Regions from separate parts of the Homo sapiens genome. Here regions 1 and 3 are each linked to region 2. Evidence: fine-mapped expression QTL. A gene starts in region 2. Each other region holds a variant in brackets. All regions are shown on one strand. Distances are from middle to middle. Region 1 overlaps WDR45B (WD repeat domain 45B). Region 2 holds the start of WDR45B (WD repeat domain 45B). Region 3 holds the start of METRNL (meteorin like, glial cell differentiation regulator).

The links. PIP is the estimated chance that this variant, and not a neighbour inherited with it, causes the effect.
Region 1: its variant is fine-mapped to the expression of WDR45B in monocytes after LPS (Fairfax 2014, PIP 0.95).
Region 3: its variant is fine-mapped to the expression of WDR45B in whole blood (Lepik 2017, PIP 0.92).

What each region holds. Positions count from the first base shown.
Region 1 is chr17:82,610,886-82,619,038 of GRCh38, reverse strand. WDR45B (WD repeat domain 45B) reads left to right here. Exons shown (of 10, transcript NM_019613.4): 8 at 1,642-1,743; 9 at 2,394-2,515; 10 at 3,014-4,477. The coding sequence ends at 3,120. Among named protein-coding and RNA genes, the nearest start is that of FOXK2-AS1, 27 kb to the right of the region's middle. The variant T/C (reference allele first, on the strand shown) is at 4,287.
Region 2 is chr17:82,643,489-82,651,655 of GRCh38, reverse strand. It overlaps WDR45B (WD repeat domain 45B), which reads left to right and starts at 3,212. Exons shown (of 10, transcript NM_019613.4): 1 at 3,212-3,382; 2 at 7,633-7,707. The coding sequence starts at 3,316. RefSeq lists enhancers at 2,620-2,689, 3,068-3,567 and silencers at 2,980-3,049, 3,650-3,699, 3,710-3,759.
Region 3 is chr17:83,072,408-83,080,583 of GRCh38, reverse strand. METRNL (meteorin like, glial cell differentiation regulator) reads right to left here and starts at 975. Exons shown (of 4, transcript NM_001004431.3): 1 at 599-975. The coding sequence starts at 768. The variant G/T (reference allele first, on the strand shown) is at 3,962.

The DNA.
Region 1 (8,153 bases), 33 kb after region 2:
GGGCACCTCCAACTTCACCGGAGAAGAACTTCGGGCTGACAGCACGGAAGTGGGCCTTTGGGATTTGGGAGAGGGGGTAGGAGCAGCCACCCTCCCCCGAATAAGGCCAGAGGAGGGAGAAGCTTGGGCTGCTAGGGGGTTGGGTTTCAGCTTTTTAAATTGTGATTAACTTTAAGTTTTTATCGTGGGAAATTACACAGAAGTAGAAAGAATGTCATAATTAACCCTGCTTCAGCATTTATTAGTATTTGATGGTTTTTGTTGTTGGTGGGTTTTTTTTGTTGTTTTTTTGGGGTTTTTATTTTGAGGGAAGGTCTTGCTCTGTCGCCCAGGCTGGAGTGCAGTGACGCTATCACAGCTCACTACAGCCTCGACCTGGGCCCAAGCGATTCTCCTGCCTCAGCCTCCTGAGCAGCTGGGACCACAGTTGTGCACCACCACGCCCGGCTAATTGTTGTGTTTTTGTAGAGGGGTCTCGCTGCTGCCCTGGCTGGCGGGCTTGGGTTCATCCCTGTTTATTTTTAGTCTTTCTGGTGTTTTTGCCAGTTTCATCTCGTCACCAGCGCTCTGGCTTGTGTTTAAGGCAATGCTGGAGACCATGTTGGTTTGTCTGATTCCAGCCTGTTACAGTCTGAGAGGCCACACTGCCGCCCCACAGTGGTGTCCCTACAGCCCCCCGGGTGTCTAGTGCTGAAGCCCTACTTGGGTAGCATCTCATGCCCTGTGGCCACGGCCAGGAGGCCTGGTGCCTCCCCCTTGGCTAGTATTGAGCAGCATTTGGGTCTTTGAGATGAAAATGTAATTAATATAGCCGGGCGCAGTGGCTCCCGCCTGTAATCCCAGCATTTTGGGAGGCTGAGGCAGGTGGATCACCTGAGGTCAGGAGTTCGAGACCAGCCTGGCCAGCATGGCGAAACCCCATCTCTACTAAAAATACAAAAATTAGCTGGGCGTGGTGGCGTGTGCCTGTAATCCCAGCTACTAGGCAGGGCTGAGGCAGGAGGATCGCTTGAACCTGGGAGGTGGAGGTTGCAGTGAGCCAAGGTCGTGCTACTGCGCTCTATCCTGGGCAAGAGAGCGAGACTCTGTCTCAAAAAAAAAAAAAAGAAAGAAAATGTAATTAATTTATAAATACGGCAGCTTTATCTGTGAGGTCCTGGGCCTTGTGGTGTGCATAGCACATCCCTGTCTGCTCCTAGAACAGACAGCACACGGCCAATGCCTGCCCCAGCCCAGCTGACCTCCATAGGGGCAGCCTGCACCTTCCTGAGGCCAGGATCATTGGAGAGAATGTGTGTTTCTCACCCGAGTCTTGTGAGAGCAGCCCTGAGCGGCATGTTGGGGGTGTGGTCTGCAAGAAGTCCCTTCCCTCTCCCAGACACACAGCTCATCAGCTGCATTTGTGGGGCACCCAAGGAAAACTTGCCGTGATACACTGGATTGTGGCTGTGGCTTTGTGGCTTCAACCTGTGGTGCTGTGGGGATGGTTGTCGGCTTGTTAAAGAAAGGGCAGTATTCAGAATTGGCACCTCCAGAGTGGGAATGTTGAGGTGTTCCACAGTGTCGACAAGTGCTGTGGGTTAAGTCTCTGGACTCCTCCACATCCACACAAGGCCTGAGCTGTGCTGGTTTTCTCTGCAGCATCAACTTCAATCAGGATGCGTCCCTCATCTGCGTATCCAGCGACCACGGCACAGTGCATATTTTTGCAGCTGAAGATCCAAAAAGGAATAAACAGTCCAGGTAGGTGTTAGGATGCCTGCTGGGGAAAAGCCGGGGGATGAGAGGAGTCCCCAGTGTTTCAGTGTGGACGGGACAGGCCCCCCACCCCAGCAGGGTGGTGTGGACAGACCTCATATGCTATCAGCGCTGAAATCTTTTTCATTTAATTTTATATTTGTTGGGGTTTAAAAATCAGTGCAGGCTGGGCACAGTGGCTCATGCCTGTAATCCCAGCACTTTGGGAGGCCGAGGTGGGCAGATCACCTGAGGTCAGGAGTTCGAGACCATCCTGGCTAACATGGTGAAACCCCATCTCTACTAAAAAACAAAAACTAGCCGGGCGTGGTGGCGGGTGCCTGTAGTCCCAGCTACTCGGGAGGCTGAGGCAGGAGAATCGCTTGAAGCCGGGAGGTGGAGGCTGCAGTGAGCCGAGATTGCGCCCCTGCACTCCAGCCTGGGCTACAGAGCGAGACTCCGTCTCAAAAAAAAAAATTTTTTTTTTAAATAAAATTGTACAACAGGCTTTGTCATGCATGGCAAAAAAAAAATTCATTAAAGCTCAAACCATATGAAGGAGCATTTTCGTATTTTCAGCAGCGTATTCTGAGCTTACGCAGGTGATTTTTTTTCCTGTAAACTTTGAACCACCCTTTCTTTTCTTGTCTTCACAGTTTGGCCTCAGCCAGTTTCCTTCCAAAATACTTCAGTTCCAAGTGGAGTTTCTCCAAGTTTCAGGTTCCCTCAGGCTCTCCGTGCATTTGTGCCTTTGGAACAGAGCCAAACGCCGTCATTGGTGAGTGGTCCTTCCTGGAGAGAACGTCCCCACCCGCCCCACCTGGGCTCCATCCACTGAGCGTCAGACCTAACTTCCCATGGACGTCCCAGCACCGCGCTGTGGCACCGATGGCCGCCCAGTTCCCCTTATTTCTCCTGTGGGCTCAGTGTGTCCCGCTTACGGTCTGCACGGCCATTTGGGATGTCTTCAGCCCCCATCCCTCCAGTTTCCCCCAGGAAATCACAGGGACAGGTCTTCCAATGTTTGTATAGATGACCAAGAATGTTTCTTAACCCTGTAGCCAACACCGGGTGATTAGATGCTCACACCAAGACAGTCAGGATTCCCGGCCACGGTGCCGACCGAACGCATTCAGTGGGGACCCTGGGGCCTTTCAGGGCTTTCAGAGCAGCTGCCTGGCTCCAAGAGGCCCTTTGCAGTTCAGCTCAGTGGGACTCGTTGCTTTTAACTTGAGGGAAAGAAACACACAGGTAAAATGGTCTCCTTCTATCCCAGCAATTTGTGCAGACGGCAGCTACTACAAATTCCTGTTCAACCCCAAGGGGGAGTGCATCCGAGATGTCTACGCGCAGTTTCTAGAGATGACCGATGACAAGCTGTGACTCCAGCTGGGGGCGCCACAGCACCCACCACCTGCCGCCTTCAGACTCTCGGGGCTGGTGCCAGTGCCCCAGGGGCCTCCTGGGCCACGGGCTGGAGGGGCTGCCCAGGGACCTTGGTCTCGAAGCCATACGTGGTTGTCTGCTTTCCTAAGGACTCCCATTTCCAGTATTAAAGAGAGAATCATCATCAAGGCACCGTAGGTAACTCAGTGGCTGTGACCAGCTCGACTGGCGGCCACTGGCTGTTCCCATGAGTTCAGCTGTGACGTTAGCTTCAGTGGCTCCGCCGCATCCTCACACTGACGGGGGCTCCATACGGACCTGGGGACTGGGCTGAGAGGGTGGACGAGTTCAGGTTTGTTTTTGCAGCAGATTCCGTCGTTCTTACTGAGTCTGCAGCGGGGGAGTGAACAAGTGTGCAGATGTAAGTTCTTACATGATAAGCAGATTGAATACAACACCAGCAGCTTGCCTTAGAAAAGGAGAAAGGAATTCCTTTTCCCGCCCGAACATGAAGAAAAATGACCTGACCCTGTAGAGAGAACACAGTGTGAATGTTTCCCCTCGTGTGAGCCCAGCCTGTGGTCTTCTCCGTACCCGCAACGTGGTCATCTGTGCCCGTGACGTCACCTGTGCCCGTGCGTGGCGTCCCCGTCTCCGTTGGGGCCATTAGAATGAGGCAGACACCAGGCCACTCTAGAAGCCGAGCCGTCACACCTCAGGCGTGTGCGGGGCGGGGACGGGGGGTCTCCTGGTTACATTTTGGATTAAACCTGTTTCCCGGTTATGTGTAGGGAACAGCAGAGTGATGCACGAACTTTGAACATTCGTTATGGGGAAAACATCCTTTAACTTCGGGGTCGTCTGCCAGAGCAGGGTCTGGGAGGGTCCATGCAGTTCCCGCTGGTGTGGAGGGAAATGCCCTGGTCTGGCCTCCGAGCCCCCAGGTCCACCGTCTCCCCTCCCCTCATTTGTAAGAATAGCTACACACTAACATTTTGGGAAGGAGAGGCACATAACTTTTTTTAACATTTGGTAACTAGGTTATGGGCTCTACATTGTCAGCTACTTGGGATATATATTTAATTTTCTTAAATTCCCGTTAAACTCTATTTTATGGTTTTGATTTCAGATTGCAAACATGTAAAACCTGCATAGCAGCGAGT[T/C]CTCGGTTTTGCCGGTTTCTTTAGTTCTTTACTGTCACTGTCATGTAATCAGCTAATTCTCTGTGGATGTTGCTGTAAAGTATGCATGTTCCTTTCATGTGTATTTAATCATGATGTTTAATTTTGCACACTTATTTGTAATGTTTCTTTTAAATAAAAGTGACTAATTTTGTTGTAGTCTGGACCTGTAATGGGAAGTAGAATTGTGTGTTATGAAGCCAAACACTCTTCCCCTTGCTGTGAGAATCTGGTTGGAGTGTAGGCTTCAGAACAGCCTGTGGGCCTGAAGAGGCGCCGGCCTGTGACAGGACAAGGTGGAAGCCAGGGTCACTGGGTGCGGAGCCTGGAGCTTCACTCCCTGTGTCGGGACAGGACAGCCTGCCCTCCTCATTCCCTGTGTCGGGACAGGACAGCCTGCCCTCCTCACTCCCTGTGTCGGGACGGGGCGGCCTGCCCTCCTCACTCCCTGTGGCGGGACGGGGCGGCCTGCCCTCCTCACTCCCTGTGGCGGGACGGGGCGGCCTGCCCTCCTCACTCCCTGTGGCGGGACGGGGCGGCCTGCCCTCCTCTCTCCCTGTGTCGGGGATGGGACGGCCTGCCCTCCTCTCTCCCTGTGTCGGGACGGGGCGGCCTGCCCTCCTCTCTCCCTGTGCCCCAAGGGCACCTCTGGAGGAGGGAGGGAGGAAATGCATCTGTAGGAGGCCTGTGTGGCTCTGGGAGGTCTGAGGCTCCTGCTGGCCTGTGGAGGTGGAGGGTGGCTGGCAGCAGCAATGTCCCTGCATGTTGAAGTGGCAGCTTCAAGTGAGCCGGCGTCACCCTGGCTTGTCTAACACTTGAGATCTGACTCTGGGTGGGGGAGTAGGAGCGTAATTACCAGTTGATAAACATGAATCTGGGGGAAATGCATGCAAGAAGGGTGGGTTTTCTCGCAGTGCACGTGAACAGCCTCAGAACTGATGCGGACGGCGGGGCTGTGTCACAGGCCCGTTCACCAGGAACGTGGCGAGGGCCTGCACGGACGTGCCTCATGTGAGGCCCTGGCGGCACCGGCCCTCCCCAGGCATGTGCTTTTTAAAAATCACTGTAGAGCGGCAAGGACACGGTGTCCCTAGGCCGGCGGACTCGGGAGCGCAGCTGCTTTTCAAGTGGAACTGATGGGAAGCGCAGTGTATGGGAAACAAGGCCGGGCTGCTGCCTCCCCCACGAACCTCCTGTGCCCCGGACGTGGGTGCGAAGGGACTCCAGAGTGACTGCCTCAGACGGTGCCTACTCAGCAGCTTTCCTGTCTGATCGTACAGGTGCGTGGGCATGGATGACTCCGGCTGCGTTTCTGGTCTGTCCTCCCTCCCCTGTGGCCCTGGGATGTCTTGCGGGGACAGGCGGCTTGTGCCCTGTGGAACGCAGCCCTGACCCATACCCACCCTGTGTTTGGCGTTGATGCCTGTGTGAACCCCTGGCCACCTCCCGCTCCCACCACTGTAGTCGGGGGCGCTGGCCATCTGCAGCCTTCTGTGATCAAAGAGTTTTATATTTGTGTTTTCTTTCTGCAACCAAACCAAGCCCCTGAATGCCAGAGCTCTTTCACGTGACTTAGTCCTCATCTCTCTTCTGTTGTGTCAGAGGCATTTGGTTGATGACATTGTTGAAACTTGTACCAAAATTTTTCTCTTCCAGATGGATCAGAGAATACAATGAAAAAAAAGTTCCTTATAAAATAATAGAAAAATATAAATTTGTAAGCAAAATTGCCCCGTGTTTCTACCTCCAGAGAAGATCACTCTCAGACAACCCCACACCTGAACGTAACATCTATTTTTATTTAAAAAATTGTTTTGGTAGAGACGGGGTTTCTCCTCCACCTCCTGGGCTCAAGCGATCTTCCCACCTTGGCCTCCCAAAGTGCTCGGATTACAGCCACCACGCCTGGCCGCCTTTTTTATTTCAGATACATTTGTCAGTTCTAAAGTTGGTTTCTAATTCGTGGCTGATGACTTGTGTCTGCCCATTTGTACGCGCTCTGTGCGCTTTCAAGTCCTTGTCTGCCGATTCCAGCATCTGGGTCTTCTTGGAGGATGCCTCCTGATTTTCCTTTATTGAGTGGGGACTTGGGGGTGACCCTGCCTGCCGCTAGGAATGGCTGTTGAATTTTGTTAAGTGACTTTTCTGCATCTGTTGTGATGATCACACCTATCTTTTACGCCGTGAACGTGGAGCATCACGTTGATTTTTGAATGTTGAGCCAACCTTGCTGTCCTGTGGGAAAGCCCACTTGGTCACAGTGTGTTATCCTTAAATACTGCTGAATTCGCCAGGCGCGGTGGCTCACGCCTGTAATCCCAGCACTTTGGGAGCCTGAGGTGGGTGGATCACCTGAGGTCAGGAGCTCGAGACCAGCCTGGCCAACATGGTGAAACCCTGTCTCTACTAAAAATACAAAAATTAACCAGGCGTGGTGGCGCGTGCCTGTAGTCCCAGCTACTTGGGAGCGTGAGGCAGGAGAATCAGTTGAACCGGGCAGATGGAGGCTGCAGTGAGCCGAGATCGCAGCACTGCACGCCTGCCTGGGTGACAGAGACTCTATCTCAGGAAAAAAAAAAAAGAATTCTACTAATACTTGGGGATTTTTTTTTTTTTTGGATGTATATGTATAGAGGATTCTTATTTCTAATTTAGCTTGTAATATTCTTGCCGCATTCTGGAATTTCGTATCAGGTTAGTGATTTTGTGGTTTTGGCATTAATTTTAAAATGATTTGTCTTACGCAACATCCACCAAAATGTAGACATACAATGGGTTTTAACAAAAGCAAATGTAGACTTGAGACTGAGGTGGCATCTAGTGAAATGTCATTTCTTTTGTAGCTCTGTTCAAGAGAGACGCCACCGTCTGTAGAGGCCGTGAATCCCCCGACATTTGCTCTGAGCCTCCCACAGACACCTGCGGCCCCATCTTGAGTTGTCCATGCTGGCTGCCAGCCAGAAGCCTGTCATCTGTGTAAGATGTTTCAGATGGTGAGTCTGACGACGCTTCTGGGGCATGCGAGCTGAGGGCTAATTATCTCCTAATCTCTCTCGGGTATGTGGAAAAAACAGGCAAGGATCTGGCCAGATACTGTGGAAAAGGGTGTCCTCCTGACCTTGATAGCAGAGTGTAACTCCAGAAAATCAGCATTTTTCTACCTCAGTTTCAGTATTTGCACAAGGGACTTGAACTTATGTCTCACATTATTTTTACCATTATCAGCATATACGACAGCTGCCTATCCTTTTTTTTTTTGAGACAGGGTCTCACTCCAGGCTGGAGTGTGGTGATGCAATCTCAGCTCACTGCAACCTCTGTCTCCTGGATTCACGTGATCCTCCCACCTCAGCCTCCTGAGTAGCCGGGACTACAGGCGTGCACCACCACGCCCGGCTAATTTTTGTTATTGTTTTGTAGAGACGGTGTCTGTGTTCTCCAGGCTGGTCTTGAACACCTGGCCTGAAGCAGTCCTCCCACCTCAGCCTCCCAAAGTATTGGGATTACAGGTGTGAGCCACCGTGCCCAGCCGTGCTTCTTTTTTTCTTTTTTTTTTTGGCTCTGTCACCCAGGCTGGAGTGCCGGGGTGCAATCAAGGCTCACTGCAGCCTCGCCCTCCTGGGCTCAAGTGATCCTTCTGCTCCAGTTTCCCAAATAGCTAGGACCATAGGCATGCACCACCATGCCTGGCTAATTTCTTTATGTTTTGTTTGTTTGTTTTTGAAACGGAGTTTCGCTTTGTCTCCCAGGCTGGAGTGCAGTGGCTCAACCTCGGCTCACTGCAACTTCCACCTCCCGGGTTCAAGAAATTCTCCTGCCTCCACCTCTCAAGTAGCTGGGATTACAGGT
Region 2 (8,167 bases):
GGTTTCACTGTGTTAGCCAGGCTGGTCTCAAACTGCTGACCTCAGGCAATCAGCCCGCCTTGGCCTCCCAAAGTGCTGGGATTACAGGAGTGAGCCACCGCGCCCGGCCTACTGTAGATTCTTCTCTTGCCCCGAGCGGTAACCACCATCTCCAATTCTGTGCAAACCATCCTCCTGGTTTTCTTTATATGTTTATGTGTGTCCAAATATGTTGTATCTTTAAACAATACATCGTTAGGCCAGGTACAGCGGCTCACGCCTGTAATCCCAGCACTTTGGGAGGCTGAGGCAGGCATATCCTTTGAGCCTAGGAGTTCAAGACCAGCCTGGGCAACATGATGAAACCCTGTCTCCACTAAAAATACAAAAAATTAAGCTGGCATAGTGGTGTGTACCTGTAGTTGCAGCTACTCAGGAGGCTGAGGTGGGAGGATCTCCTGAGCCCAGGAGATATATACATATATATATAAATACATATATATGCGTGTGTGTGTGTGTGTGTGTGTATAATTTCTATTCTCTCCACCCCCAGAGGTGAGACTCTGCTTTCTGCCTGCCTTGGAGAAGGGTGGGCGAGATGAGCCGTGTCCCTCACTCCAAGTCACACTTCAGGTCTTCCACGTGGAGACCTCTGAGCTATCAGTGGACGGCGGGATTCCTGGAGCTGCTGGAACAAAGCCCCACAGGCTGGTGGCTTGGACAACAGCCTGTGTTCCTTCCCAGGCTGGGAGGCTCTGGGGAAGAACCGTTCATGCCTCTCCCGGCTCCTGGTGACCCCACGATTCCTGCACTTGCTGACTTAGGGCTGAGCACTCCAGTCCCACTGGCTGCTGTCCCCTGTATCTCCTCCATTCCTGTCTCCTCCAAGGGTGCCGGTCACCAGCTTTAAGGCCCACCCCAAATCCAGGATGATCTTATCTCGAGATCCTTAATTACTTCTGCAATGATTCTTTACCTAAAGAAGCCCCTATTCTCAGGTTCTGGGTGGACCTATCTTTTTTTTTTTTTTTTTTTGCGACAGAGTCTTGCTGTGTTGCCCAGGCTGGAGTGTAGTGGCACAATCTCAGTTCAGTGCAGCCTCAGCCTCAATCTCCTGGGCTCAAGCCATCCTCCCTCCTCAGCCCCCCAGGACACATCTTTAGAGGGTCACCATTCAACGCACTGTGGTGGGCAAGGCTGCTTTGAGTTTCCTGGTTAGGATACAACCAGCGCTGTGTGTGGATGTCCACACATGCCCCCGCCCCCGGCTGTACAGCCACCGGGAGACTGAGTAAAATGTGAACTGAAGGAGGCCCCAAGGGTGGCAAGCAGAGAAATGAAGGGAAATGTCCCTTACCCACGCCTCTCTCCTTCCCCCACGTGACACTTCTCACAGCAGGTACCGGTACGTGTGCACAGAGGAGAACCCAGTGCCCTTCAGGGAAGAGGGTGCTGAGCCCCTGGACCGCACTTAGGTCTCGCCCCAGCTCTGTGATTTGGACCTGGGCCCCCGAGCCCTAGTCACAGCCGGGGCGGCCCAACTCGCTCCGCCATCGGAAGGCTTCTGGTCGCTCTCAGGGAGGAGCCCCTCTCGTATGGGAATCGAGGTGTTCAATGCCCACGATGCGGAGACCGCCTGGCCCGAGTGGGCCAGTGATCTCAGCTTACAGTCCAGCTCCTTCCTCCCCATGGCTAAGAGGTCAGCACCAGCTCAGGCAAGTGGCGAGGGTGGGATGAGGATGACAGACGGGGTGGAGGCAGGTGGCTGCGAGGGGACAGTGTCAGGACCTCCTAGGAGATCAGGTGTGCTGCAGGGAACAGGGAGAGCCTAGGAGGGGACAGGAAAGTGAGGAGGGGGAGTGGAGAGGACTCCCTGGGCAAGAGACACGAGGGCCAGCACTCAGGCCTCCACAGCCATCCACTGCATGAGCCAAGCCCAGGGACAAAGCTCTGTGACCAGGATGCCCCCAGCAGCCTGACCCTAAGAGTTGAGAACTGTGCCCTGTGAGCAATGTGACCTGAGGGTCCCGGAGTCCTGCGGGGGCTGTGCTGTGTGAGGGCCACCTGTCCTTTAGGTGGGGTACTAAGGGGTTGTGTCCTCTATGGGCTGTGTCGTGGGGGGGCTGTGTGTCCTCTGGGGGGCTATGTGTCCTGGGAAGGTCCCTGTGTCCTGGGAAGGTCTCTGTGACCTGGCGGTCTGTGTGTCCTGGGGGGGCTGTGTGTCTTAGGGGGACCTCTGTGTCTTCTGGGGGAATATGTGCCCTGGAAAGGACTCTGTGTACTGGGGGAGGCTGTGTGTCTTAGGGGGGCTGTGTCCTGGGGGGGTTTCTGTGTCCCGGGGGGGCTGTGTGTCCTGGGAGTGCTGTGTCCTGGGGGACCTCTGTGTCCTGGGGGCACTGTGTGTCCTGGGGGGACCTCTGTGTCCTGGAGACTGCGTGTCTTGGGGGTCCTCTGTGTCCTGGGGGGTCTCTGTCCTGGGGACTGTGTGTCTTGGGCACCCTCTGCGTCCTGCAGGAGCTGCGTGTCCTGGGGGGGCTGAGTGACTTGGGGGCCCTCTGTGTCCTGGGGGTCTCTGTCTCCTGAAGGGGGACCCTAGTATTGTGGCGCTTCTGGGCTTGCCTCTCATGAGGGATGATGCACCGGGCCTCAGTTTTGGGTCAGCCTCCTTTACCGGCTCTCCCCCCTTCCTCCGACCGTCAGGTATCCGTGCCAAGCCCTCAACGGGCCATCCTCCTTCCCGCGGCGACCCCGCGCATGACAAGGCCAGACCCTCCCGCGAACGTGCTCTGCGCTCCCGCCTGGCCCCTCCCCGCCCCGCCCCTCCCCCTCCTCCCCGCCCCGCCTCGCTCCGCCCCTCCCCGCCTCCGCCCCGCCCCGCCCGCCCTGCCTCTCCCCGCCTTTCCTCGCCTCGCCCCGCCCCGCCCCGCCCCCTCCTCCCCGCCCCGCCTCGCTCCGCCTCTCCCCGCCTCATCCCGCCCCGCCCGCCCTGCCTCTCCCCGCCTCATCCCGCCCCGCCCGCCCTGCCTCTCCCCGCCTTTCCTCGCCTCGCCTCGCCTCGCCCCGCCCCGCCCCTCCCCGCCCTGCCTCGCCTCGTCTCGCCTCGCTTCGGTTAGATGCGCTCGGCGCTCCATAGGCTCCCTGGTGGGGCGCGGGCGCGCGCACGGACGTCCAGCACGCACGCACGCACGTCCAGCACACACGCACATCCAGCACGCACGCACGTACGTCCGGCACTTCCGGCCGCGGCGGCCTCAGCGCCGGCCCGAAGGGACCAGGCCGCCGTCCCCAGCGAGAGGCATGCAGCGCTGAGGAGCGGCGACCCAGCACGGCGGCGCCATGAACCTCCTGCCGTGTAACCCTCACGGCAACGGGCTGCTCTACGCCGGCTTCAACCAGGACCACGGTGAGGAGGCGCGGCCCTGTCGCCTTGCCCGGCCGGGCCTTCCCGCAGCCCGGGGTCCCCGGCTCTCAGGCCTCTCCTGGGCGCCCCTTTCCGGCCAGGCCTTCCACCCGGGACCCCGGCCCCGCCCGAGCTCCCCTCCGAAGCCCCCGGCCCCGGCCCTCGCCGCTGCTCCCAGCCCGAGCCGGGGTCCGGACCAGGCCCGAACCGGCTCCCACCTTCCTGGCCTTTCGCGCTCCCCCACCCCCCGGGTTGTGACCGCTCCCAGCCGGCCGTCCCGGGCCGAGGTCGAGGTCGGTGGGAGACGGCACAGAACCCCAGCCTCCTGCGCGGACGCCCCTCCCCGCGCGCCACGCCCACTCGGGTTCCCTGGCTCCCTGCGGGCTCCACGGTTATCGGGATTTTCCCCACAGCGTGATTGACGCCCTGCCCAGAACCCCGTTTTGCCCCCTGTTCCTTTCAGGGTCTTTAGTAGGTAGCCCGTGGCTGAGCTGACTTCGCTTGGGTTTACTGGAGCCGCGGAGCCGGCGTCTCCGACGCCTCTGGTGGCGAGTGGCGCGGGTGGGGTGCAGGTCTCACCTTTCCCGTCGGTTTCCATCGGAAAATGTCACTCTCCCCACCCCCACTCCCCGGGATTTTTCTTCGTGTTTGGTGGAGTCAAAGGACTTAAGGGAGGCCTTTGAGGGAAATCTTACTTCTTTTCCCATGTCGGAATCCAGGTGTAAGCACTGGATGATTTAAAGCGCCCAGGGAAGGTGACCTCCTTCCCCGCAGGTGCTTCGGAGCTGCGGGGGATGCGGCCGGGGCGGCGCGGTCGGATTCCCGCGGGAGGCGGGCGGGACCTGGATTCGGATGGTTGCCTCCTCACCTCCCATTTGAAGGGCGCGCTTCCCAAAGGTCCTGATGGGGAGGAAAAGGAATGTCCGTTATTCCGAGACAGGCTTCTGCGAGGCTTTACATGTTGGCTTTGGAAGTTTTGTTTTTGAAGAGAATCCAGGCAGGTGCTGTATGATCCCGTATATGTGAAGACAATTTTATTTATTTATTTATTTCATTTTGAGACGGAGTCTCATTCTGTCGCCCAGCCTGGTGCGATCTCGACTCACTGCAACCTCCTCCTCCCGGGTTCACGCCATTCTCCTGCCTCAGGCTCCTGAGTAGCTGGGATTACAGGCGCCTGCCTCCACGCCCGGCTACTTTTTGTATTTTTAGTAGAGACGGGGTTTCACCATGTTGGCCAGGCTGGTCTCAATCTGACCTCAGGTGATCCACCCGCCTCGGCCTCCCAAAGTGCTGGGATTACAGGCGTGAGCCACTGCGCCCGGCCGGATTACACATATTTGAAAGAACTCCCTCTCAGTGATTTTGATGCCTGATGCCCTGGGACCAGTCAGGCTTCCTGGGCGCTGCCAGCTTCCCCAGGGTTGTGTGCTGGGGTTTCTCCGGAAGAAAGTTTTGCTGAGATGGTAAGGGAGATGCCTAGCCTTCTCAGAGGGTGGTTTCCAACCATCTGGTGTTTGTAATGCCTTCTTTTTAGTGAAGTGTGCTATACCTGTAGAAGGGTGGATATATCATAAGTGTTCAGGTGATGAATTTTCCAAACTACACACCTGTCACTAACAATTAAGAAATTGAATATACCTGGCCACGCTTGATTCCAATAAATGCTCCCTACCTGACTTGTGACATCATAGATTAGTTTTGCCTACTTCTGTACTTTATTTTTGTACTTATTTTTGTTTCTAGCTGTTTTTTTGTTTTGGGTTTTTTTTTTTTTTTTTTTTTTTTGAGACGGAGTTTTCGCTCTTGTTGCCCAGGCTGGAGTGCAATGGCGCGTTCTAGGCTCACTGCAAACTCCGCCTCTCAGGTTCAAGCAATTCTCCTGTCTCAGCCTCCCGAGTAGCTGAGATTACAGGCATGCACCACCATGCCTGGCTAATTTTGTATTTTTAGTAGAGACTGGGTTTCTCCGTGTTGAGTCTGGTCTTGAACTCCTGACCTCAGGTGATCCGCCCACCTCGGCCTCTCAAAGTGCTGGGGTTACAGGCGTGAGCCACGGCGCCAGGCTGTTTCTAGGTTTCTTACTCAACATCATGTTTGTGATTTTTTTTTTCCGTATTGTTGAGTATAGTTGTAGATCTTTTTTTTTTTCTTTTTCCGAGACGGATCTTGCTCTTGCCCAGGCTGGAGTGCTGTGGCGTGATCTCAGCTCACTGCAACCTCTGCCTCCTGGGTTCAAGCGATTCTCCTGCCTCAGGCTCCCGAGTAGTTGGGATTACAGGTGCCCGCCACCGCTCCCGGCTAATTTTTGTATTTTGAATAGAGATGGGGTTTCACCGTGTTAGCCAGGATGGTCTTGATCTCCTGACCCTGTGATCCACCCACCTCGGCTGCCCAAAATGCTGGGATTACAGGTGTGAGCCACCGTGCCCGGCCAGATCATTCTTGATGTACAATGTTCTTTTGTGCAGACATACAACAATTCATATATCCAGTCTACCATGGTTGGGCATTTGGGTACGTTCCAGTTTTTGGCTACCATAAGCATAATATGAGTAATAAGAGTAATGATTAATCTAGAAGATGTCTCTCAGTGACCATATGTTCACATTTCCACAGGCATGTACTTCTATATACCTAGGAGTAGAATTGAGAGTATAGTAGATAGTACAAATAGTTTTCCAAAGTGGTTGTACCACTTTGCCCTCAACTAGCAGGTCTAAGAGTTCCCATGGCTCTACACCCAGCTCACATTTGATGTTTTCTCTTATTTTTGGTCATTTTGGTGGCTGTGTACATCTCTCTGTTGTTTATTTGCATTTTCCTGATTTTGTGTTTCTTGACCACTTGGATATCCTCTTGTGACATGTCTAAGTCTTTTGCCCATTTTTCTATTGAGGATTTTGCCTTTTTCTTGTGGATTTCTAGGAGGTGGTTTGGGTATTTCTATTTTTATTTTTTATTTTTGTTTTTTTTTTTGAGACGGAGTCTTGCTGTGTTGCCCAGGTTGGAGTGCAGTGGCGTGATCTGAGCTCGCTGCAACCTCCCCCTCCTGGGTTCAAGTGATTCTCCTGTCTCAGCCTCCTGAGTAGCTGGGATTACAGGCGCTCACCACCACGACTGGCTAATTTTTTGGTATTTCTAGTAGAGACGGGGTTTCATCGTGTTGGTCAGGCTGGTCTCGAACTCCTGATCTCAGGTGATCCACCTGCCTTGGCCTCCCAAAGTGCTGGGATTACAGGCACATGCCACCATGCCTGGCTAATTTTTGTATTTTTAGTGGAGGGTAGGTTTCACCATGTTGGCCAGGGTGGTCTCGAACTCCTGACCTCAGGTGATCCGCCCACCTCGGTCTCCCAAAGTGCTGGGATTGCAGGCGTGAGCTGCTGCGTCCGGCCTCAAATGGGAGTTTTAGAGGCCTTTGTGTTGGGCTTTCACACCACTTGTGCAGTCATTGGAAAGATCCAGACTTTGCAACATTTCATGTGAAAAATAATTGAGGGGTTTGTTTTTTTCTCTTTCCAGCCACAGCTTCATAGAGCCAACAGTTGGACATGGCATTTAAGGAGATGGATGTAGTCCCTGGGTCACACACGAGCATTAACACACGATCATCTACGCACTTAAGTGCTTTATTCAGTTTCTAACAGTGCTGTTTATTTGGACCATTAACAGCCTGCTGTGTGACTTGGAGGCAGTGACCAGGATGAGTGACCTGGGTAACTCATTGAGACTCTGACAGGATTTTAAGGAGTTAGGATGATTTATAGGTGGGAGCAAAGTCACGGGAGACCACCCTGTAAATGGGAAAGAGCATCCTTTCCTCACCTTCCCGGTTCCTGGAGTCTAGGACTACCTCTTGTCTCCCCAGCACCCTGCCCTTCCCTTCACCTGGTGTCCACAGTGGGCGGGATTGCCTGCTTGGTGGCTTTCCTCTAGAAGTGTCCTTCACGTTTGTCACTGATCGTCCTCCAAGCCTGGGCCATGGGGATGCCACAGAAGGCCCCTGCAGTGGGGAAGTTGTGTGAACAACTCCAAGACTCCTTTGCTAAAGGACAAACAAAATGCCCTGCATGGATGTGCTTGTCACTTAGTAACATTTGTACAAGGACAGGAGTTGTGACTTAGCACCTATCGTGTCTGTGTGGTTTGAGCATCTGCAAGAGTTCTCAGTAGTTGTCATTTCTCCAGACCTCTTTCTTTTAACCACTCCAGGCCTGGGGATTAATGTCTCTTTTACACTTCTGCTTTAGGATGCTTTGCGTGTGGGATGGAAAATGGATTCCGAGTCTATAACACTGATCCACTAAAAGAAAAAGAGAAACAAGGTAAGAATTAACGGGACATTTTCTGGTTTCTCCCCTTTCCAACCCTCGGAGTCTTAAATTTAACCTTGCAGGTGGAGCAGGGAAGGGATGGCTGTTTTCGAGAAGTAAATAGGGTTCATGGCCCCTCATAAACTTGGAGGGAGCTGTCCTCTTTCTTTCGTTGAGCTTCTACAGGTGCTGAGGGATACAGGTGTTGAGCAGGTTTGTTCACTGGCCTGATTTCTCTAGTGAATTATCGATCAGCATGAACTTCTTGTGCCTTTTCCTGTCACATCAGGGATTTTTGGCAGCAGAAACCTCTTTTCAAGTAAAGTCTTACCTGTAACCCTGGGATGTAGAACAGTAAGTGGTGCTTTATGTCTGGGAGTTTATTTTGTAAGTCAGGGTGCATTTCCTCAGCCTGCATCCATGCTGTGTACGTTTGAGTCCTGGTTCTGCCCTTTACCAGGTTGCTGTGCGA
Region 3 (8,176 bases), 430 kb before region 2:
GGGTGGGGGGGGGGGGGGTCGCCCAGCGCAGCGCGCGCCGCGGCCAAGGGCGGCCTGACCTTCACGGGGCAGGGGCGGGGGGCCCGGCCGGAGCCACACTCGGCCCGGCTCACAGGTGCCCGCCCGCGGCTCCCCGAGACGGAAGTGGCCCCCGCTGCGGTCCGCGCCCGATCCCCGAAACCGCCGCTCCCTCCCGCGGCCGTCCCTTCCCGCTCTGGCCCGGGGCGGCCTCGGGGCGCGCAACTCCCGGAGCCTGCCAGGAAGGGCCCGAGGACCGACCCCCGCCTGCCCCCGGGATGGGGTCGCGGGACCGGCGGCCCCCGAGGCTCGGACACGCGCGGAGCCGGGACCCACCCGGCCGCGCTGCAGGCGCGCCTCCCCCGGGCGTCCTCCGGGCCGGGAACCGGGACGCCGCGGGCTCTTTTGTTCTAGAACCGGGGGCGGGGGACAGCGGGCACCGGACTGGGCCTGGAGAGCGGCCCCCGGAGCCCCTGCCCCGCGCCCGCCCCCGGCCGCGCCCCCGCACGCTCGGCCGGCCCGGGACGGGAGGGGACGCGAGGGGAGGGGGCCGGGCCGGGGTCGCGCCGCGCACACTCACCTCCCCTTCCAGCTGCACCGGTCGCTGGAGTACTGCGCGCCCGCGCCGCCCAGCAGCCCGGCCAGGAGCAGGAGCAGCAGCGGGAGCGGCGGCGGGGGCGGGCCCGGGGCGGGGGGTCGCGGCCACGGCTGCCCCGCGCGCCCCCAGGCCGCCCGCGCCGCGCCCCGCATGCTCTGGCGCCGGCTCCGCCGCCCGGCCCCGCGTCCGCGACCCCCGGAGCAGACCCCGGAGCCGGCGAGCCGGGCGGGGGCGGGGCGGGCTTCGAGTCCGGGTGGTCACGTCGCGCGCCCCCCGCGTCCTCCGCGCGGCCGCCCGCCCATCCCGGCCCGCTGGAGCCGCGCGCAGAGCTCCGCGCCCGCCGCCGCCGCCGAGCCTCTGAAGTTGGCGAGTCCGAGTCCGCCCGGCCGGGCTCAGCTGGGGGGTGGGGCCCACCCGCCGCCCCGCCCCGCCCCCGACCCCGCCCCCGACCCCGCCCCGCGCCGGAAACTCCTCCCGGGGCGCCCGGCCGGACGCGCAGACACCGAGTCAGCAGCGAATCGGGGGCGCGGGCGCCGGGGCGGGGGGCGCTGCAGGAGGAGGGGGCCGCGCCGGGCGGCGAGCGGGGTCCGGAGGGAAGAGCCCGGCCTGGAAAGCGGAGTCCGGGGCCGGAGGGGTTGCAAGGCGAGGGCGGGGCGGAAACCCGAGACCCCCAAGTAGTGGCCGACGCGAGCCGCGGTCGCCCCCCGCAGACCCCCGCGAGGCGGTGCCGGGGCCGCATCCTGCGCCCCATCCTGCGCCCCATCCTGCGGGCAGCCCCGGCGCGGAGCGGTAAAGGAGGCTCCCGGCCCCGCCGGTTCTGGGTCCCCCGCGCCTCGCCAGCGGGCGGTGATCAGGGGCGATCCGGGCGCCCCGCGTTCCGCAGAGTTGGTGCCTCGGGAGTTCCCGGCTCCCTCCTGACCGGGGGGGAGGCCCGGCGGTGAGCCCGGCTTCCCTCCCTCCTCCCGGAGGACGTGCAGCCGCCGCGCCGGGGCCTCTGCCGAGCGCTGCCCACTCCTCGCTCCGGATACGCGGGGCCGGGTGGTTCTTGGGGTGGGGACGTCCTGCGCATGGTGGGATGTTGGCAGCACCCTGGCCCCCGCACTCTGGGTATCAGTAGCAACCCCCGCCCCAGCTTTGACAACCTAAACTCTCTGCAGATTTGGCCAAATCCCGCCCCCACCCCGTGCCCGCGGGGCAGAATCACCTGCGGAGCGTCCTGCTCGAGTGTGTTCCTCGGAGTCGGCGCCTTCCCCAGGTGGTCACCGCGGCCACCACGTGCCTGACCCAGTGGGGGGGACAGCGGAGACCCCCGCCCGGACTGGGGAGGCCCTAGAGACTCAGGCCAGAGAAGGGGAGCCAGAGGGTGCCGAGGGCCCCCCAGGCAGGAGAGGGCGGAGCTGGCCCGCCCGGCGGTCCCCGCTGCGATGGCAAAGCTGGCTTCTGTGTGCTGCGGGTCAGTGGCCCTGCCCGAGACGCCTGGTGTCAGTTCCAGAGCCGAGCGCAGCATCCAGCGGTGGGGAAGCTTGGCCTTGTCCCCTTTTCCAGCCAAGATACCTTCCAGGAGGACTTGCGAACGACCTGTGCAAGTCTGAATAACTGGGTTGTGACTACCAGAGGAGGCGGGGAGAGGGCTTTGAAAATTGTGAGTCTGCAGGGACGGAAGTCACCGGCAAAGGCAGGTGGAGCCCAGCCCCCAGCCCAGGAAAGCTGGGACAAGGGTGAGGGTCTGAAGAACTGGAAGGCGATGACAGTGACCACTGAAGGTAGTTTCATTGTAAGGATCTGTTCAGAGCACCCACCCCATCGAAAGCCTGGAGCCAGGACCTTGCCCAGCACATCAAGTGACATCACCCTGAGGCTCAAGGTCTGGTGGAGGTGCATTTCGGAGCTTGGAGACTGCCCCACCCACCCCCGTCTGCTCTAGGAGTGCACCTCCCCCCACCCCCATCACTGCAGGTACCAGGGTGCCCAGTGGAAAGGGACCTGCTGTGGAAAGGGACCTGCTGTGGAAAGGGACCTGCGGCTTCACACCTGTGCGCAGCAACTGCTTTCCATGCCCACCAAGCATAAGATAGCAGCCCCCCCAGGCCCGGTCCACCCTTGAAGGGCCACATGGCCTATCAGGGTCCAGATCATCACACCACGGAAGAGGCAGGGCAGTGCTGGGATCTCTTGAGTTATAGATGCGGACATGGGGAACTCAGGACCTGCCGTGACCTGCTCAGGGTCTCAGAGCCCCTGGTGGCTGCTAGACCGAAGGGGAGAGGCCGCCTCTGGTCAGCAGGCAGCTGGTTCCAGCCTAGGCTGGGGCAGAGATCTGCCACCTGGCAGGATGCCCAGCCTCCTGTGCCCAGCGGGCTGTCCTAAGACTGGGATCGTACGATGGTGAGTATGGGACCCACGTGTACTTTTCAAAACCCGTAGAAAATACAGCACAAGAGTGAATCCTGATGGAGGCTTGAGACATTTGTAATAATAACGGATCAATATTGGTTCTTTGACTGTCACACGCCTACACCCTAATGAGAGAAGGTAATCATAAGAGAAACTGGGTCAGGGAGAGGGTGTGTGGGGGACCTCTACCATCTGCTTGGTGTTTCTGTAAACCTAAAACATTAAGTCTGCTAATTAAAACAAAACAAAACTAGAGTAAGAATGCTTGCTGGCCAGTATTCTCGGAAGAAGCTAATCTGTCTTGGGAAAGGAGCCTGGCCCTTTCCACCCTGGGGCTGTGGTTCCCCAAGCTGTTCCCTTGAGGAGGTTCATGCCCCAGAGACATTGGGTGCTCCTGGGCACCTCTGCTGACCCCTGTCCTGGCCCAGCGAGGCCACCTACAGGTGAGACGTCCCCTGTAGACGGGGTTCCTGGTGTCAGGAGGTATCAGGCTCCTAGAGGATGCAGGCTGAGGTGGTCAAGGCTGTCTGGGGGTGTTCCCAGCCACTGGTACACTGCCCCTTGTACCACCAGACCCCGAGAGGCCGATTATGAACCAAAAGGATCCCAGCTGGTCATGGTGTGTGGCCCTCCCCCTGGTCCTCTGGGAGGGTCTGCAAGGAAAGGGCCTTGGGTGTGTTTGTCCCTGGATGTCTGGGAAGGGACTGCTTCCCAGTGAGCATGTCACGGGGTTAGACCCAGGAAGGGGCCACAGCATCATCCCACCCACCCACTCGTGGGAAGGAGCTGGTCTTCGCAGCTTTGCGTGAAGCTCTGATACTTCCTACCTGAGTCGGAACGTTGAGGCTGAGCCGTGGAATCGGAGAGCTCCAGAACCCACCAGGATCACGCCTGCCCATTCCCTCTACCGGCGGGCCCTGCAGTGATGCTTCTGCATCCTGGGAGATGGCA[G/T]CTAAGGGACCTGGGCCAGGGGGGCCTGTGGCCCAACCGTAGGTCTACATCAACCCTCTCTCTTTCCTCATCTATCCATTCCCTCGAGAAACAGCTCTCAGAAGCCTCCTGGGCAGACGTCCGTGAAAAAAATTCTGGGTGCACCCTGGACAGTCCTTCTGTGCCTCACCAGGGTCTGAGGCCTCAGAAAGCAGGACGTGGCCTCCCATGTCCGAGGACCACGACCCACTGTTAGGATCGAGTGACCTCGGCAGGGTCACCTCTGTGTATTTGACCCGGGAGTTTTTATCGCGTGCATTGCAGGGACCCAGCACCTGGGAATTTGCTGGGGTGGAGGGCTGTGGGACTGGACCCCTTTCTCGGCCTTTCCTATGCCGGGTGCCTACAGGCCCTGTGGGGTGGTGGACGGACCTGGCTCGGACGTCAGCCCCCAGCTCTGGGTCACAGACATGGTGGGGTTGGAGTCTGTTTCTGAGCCTCAGTTACCTGCAAAGTGGATCTGTTCTTGATTCCCAGGGCGTCGTAGGGTTTACGATGTCAGGATTCAACGCCACGTCCCCAGGTGGGGGCTGATTCTCACCTGTTCAAGGCACCACCGGGCTGTCATCAGGCCTTGGGGCCCTCATGGGGCTGGGTGGGGGGAACCCCTCCCGCCGTGCTCCCCACAGCTGCGAGTTCTCTGAGCCACTGGCACAACCCGGTGGACTTTACTGCTTTTATTTTTGGCCCAGTCTTGAGGTTTTCAAATGTGTGTTGACGGCCAATGTGCTGCCCAAGATGACCAGTCACCTGAATCCACTCACTAAAGAAACAGCTCCTCCCAGAGTAGCTGGATTCCTCCAGAAAAACATCACACGGTTTCCCCAAGCGCGTCCATGAAATTTTCTCTTTCAGCATTTGAAAAATACTGAAGAACGTCGCAGTCTGTCGTTCACGTGAGCACAGTTCATCCCACGGCCCCGCCCAACCACCACCTCCCAAGTCATTTGCCACCCGTTTCCCTCCCAGGCCATTTTCGCCAACCTTCTCGTAATTATCGTAATTGTGGTTGAATGATACATGGAGAGCCTGTGCTTGTAACTCAACTTCAATGAGCAACGTGTAATTACTACACGAAACAGCCACGGATGCCAGCCAGCCTCCACCTGATGACCTTCAGTGTGTCATTCTTCCCTAACCCCCTCCTTAACCTAATTTGCTGCCATGTGCTGCTCTCTGTGCGTCAGAGAAAAGTGGGAGTAGGGAGTTTCCTTGAGTCAGATACAAGTCCAGGCCGATGCTGGCCGGCTATGTGACCTTGGGTGGTGCTTGCCCCCAGGTTGGCCAGGTGGAGAGAGGCCACCAGCCGCCAGCTCGGCAGTGAGAGACAGTTCTGTGTGGCACGCTGGCCCCACACCGTCCTAGCAGTTGTTTGTAGCAGCTGTTCATGGCAGCATCTCACCCTCCGCCCGGCCATGAACCGACCATGGCCCCAGGGCTGGTGAGCTGTAGTGACTCTGCCATCTCGGGCACTCAGACCCCACAGGGAAGGAGGGTCCTCGGCCTCCGCGGGGTGGTGTCAGGAGGGGCCATCTACAGTACACGGTGGATTTGTACACAGAGGTGGACGTCTGCGTGGACCCTGACCACGGCCGGTCAGATGTGCTCAGGGGCAGGACCGTGAGCCCAGTGATGACGTGCTAAGGTCCGGCCGGCCGGCCACACACAGCAGGTCTGCGGTCACCCAGGACGTCAGCCGAGGGCCTCAGCCCACTCGTTCTGGAGGACGCTCACGGCAGAAACGCCTCGGAAGGAGCCGGTATCCCCACGGCCTGCGGGGAGAGGGAGTGTCCCATATGCCAACTACCGAAGGCCTGAAACTCACAAACGTTGAAGGCCAGTGTGCAGGGCACCCACGCATCCCCCGGCTGCGGCCGAGGGCTGTTCCTCTGTTTTGGCATTTCCCCTGAGCCACGTGGGAGCTGCAGAGGTTGTGACCCTTTGGCCCTAATCATGGGAGCAGGAGTCACCCCTCAACGGGGACAACGTATGGTGCCATCCAGCGCCGTCGGCACACCCAGCTTGCCGTGTGGAGACGGTGCCCCTCCATAGAGTAAATGCACGCCGCCTTGTTCCCCGTGGGCCCCACACTTGACTGCTCATCACCGGGCTGGGCCCCCTCTGACAGGCTGGGCAGGGCACAGGGTGGTCCCTCCCAGGGTTCACTGGTTGGCATCAGAGACCAGAGCCCCGCTCCGTGGCCCTCCTGGCAGCCCGCCCCACTGGCATCTGAATTCTGGAAGGCACCTCTCCCAGGGCCACCTTGGCCACCCTCTAGAATAAACAGAAAGAGGGGGCTCTGCTGCCTGGGGCTCCTCGTGGGCTCAGATCGGTCGGCGTGTCTCACTGAACAGTTTGGGCTCCTTTTTTCTTGCAAGTTTATAATCGAAACGAAGAGCTTTTTTTCTCTGCTTCTGTGGCCTTTGGTTTCATGCTACAGGAAGGCATCTCCCAGACCCCAGTGGGGCCTGCCGACAGCGGAGGCACGTGGGGGTGTGCGAGGGGCTGTGCCCTGTTCTTGCTGTGCCCCTCTGCCCCTGGCACCACCCCGAAGGAGGCAAGGCCTTGTCAACATCTGTTAAGCCGGGAACCGGGGACCGCCCAGGGTCAGATGGGCTGGAGTAGCCACACTGCAGGAAGCTGAGGGCAGACAGAGCTCTCTCCTCCCATACCCCACTGGGCTGGGTGTCCCGGGGAGGGTGGACGTCCAGATGCTGGGGCACCTAACCTGGACCGGGCTGGGCAGCTGCCCAGCGCGTGGGGAAGGGCGGGACCGTGGTCGGCGCAGTCACCACCAGGACCTGCCCCGCCGGGCGGGGTTCTGCCTCCTCCTCCAGTCCACAGGGCGAGTCTCCACGGACAGCCCCAGGGACAGGCCCTCCCCACATCGACGCTGCGCCTGGATGACTCAGCCCAGGCAGGCGGGGGTGGCGGTAGACACCCTCACCAGGAGCCTGTCCAGTGGGGCCCTCCCATGCAGGTAATTAGCCCGGCTGTCCTGCCCCTGAAAAGAGGCCGGGTAGCCCAGAGCTGCCCCCAGCTGGAGGGGCTGAGAGCTCTGGCTGTGGAGCGTGCGTGGGATGCGGGGGCGCTGGAGGCACAGGGCAGCTGTCTCACATGTCCGTCCCTTTCTGCCCACGCTGAGATAGTGAAGAAGGCCTTGACAGCCATTTGGACAGACGGTCCCACCCAGAACGAGGAGAAGCAGGCGACACCCAGCTCAGCGGACAGTGGGCAGGCACACTGGCAGGCAGGGTCAGGGGATCTGTCTCCCGAGTCACCTGTGTGCCAAGACACCCCACTGCGTCCCCAGGCTCCAGGGTTTGGGGAAGGGTGTCGGTGGGGCTGGGCGTGCAGGGAGCGTCCGGGGGCCAGGTCACGTGGACTTGGCCGATCTTGGAGAGAGAACTGGACCCCCACAGTGTCGAGTAGATAGGGGCCCAGCGGGGTGGGGCCCGAGCAAGTGAAGGCGGGGGTGGGGCAGGGCCTGGGTGTGCCTCCCCAAATCCAGCCAAGCTGGAGTGCACAGGGTCACCCAGGGATGCTGGCTTCACGCTCTTCCTCCAGCCATGCCTGCCTGGACTCGGCGGAGGAAACACTCCCTCCAGAAGCCCCTCCAGGCAGGCAGGAGCGAGGCCAGCTGGTGGGCTTTCTCCTCGGGAGTGGAGGGGTCCCTCCCGTCCACACGGCAGGTGCTGAGCACCCTACCCCAACCCTGCCTGCTGCAACGTGCGGGCCCAGCCTTGGCGCCAGCTGTCCCAACAGGGACCTGAGGACCCATGTGCCTTCTCCTGGAGAGGTGGCCAGGCCTGTGCCGGGGCTCCACTCTACTCCCAGTGGTGCCAGGAGGTCCCTGCAGCCCCAATGCCAGAGCTGTGCCTCCGCTGAAGCTTGCGGAAGTGAGACGGCCCAGAGGGACCCGCTGTCCAGACCCAGGATGGTGGACTGTGCGTCCTGGGCCTCAGTTCAGGCTCATGAAAGATGACTGAGCCCCCTCCGCCCCCGCCCCACACCCTCCAGCCCCCACACCCCACCATGCCCCGCACCGCACCAGCTCCCCGCATAGATGCTCCTCCTTGTCAGCCTGGGCCAGAGCCAGACAGGACCCACAGAGGCAGGGACCCCTCCCCAAATCCTAGCTGGCAGTTTCAGTCTTTAAGCACTGTCTGGGGGGTT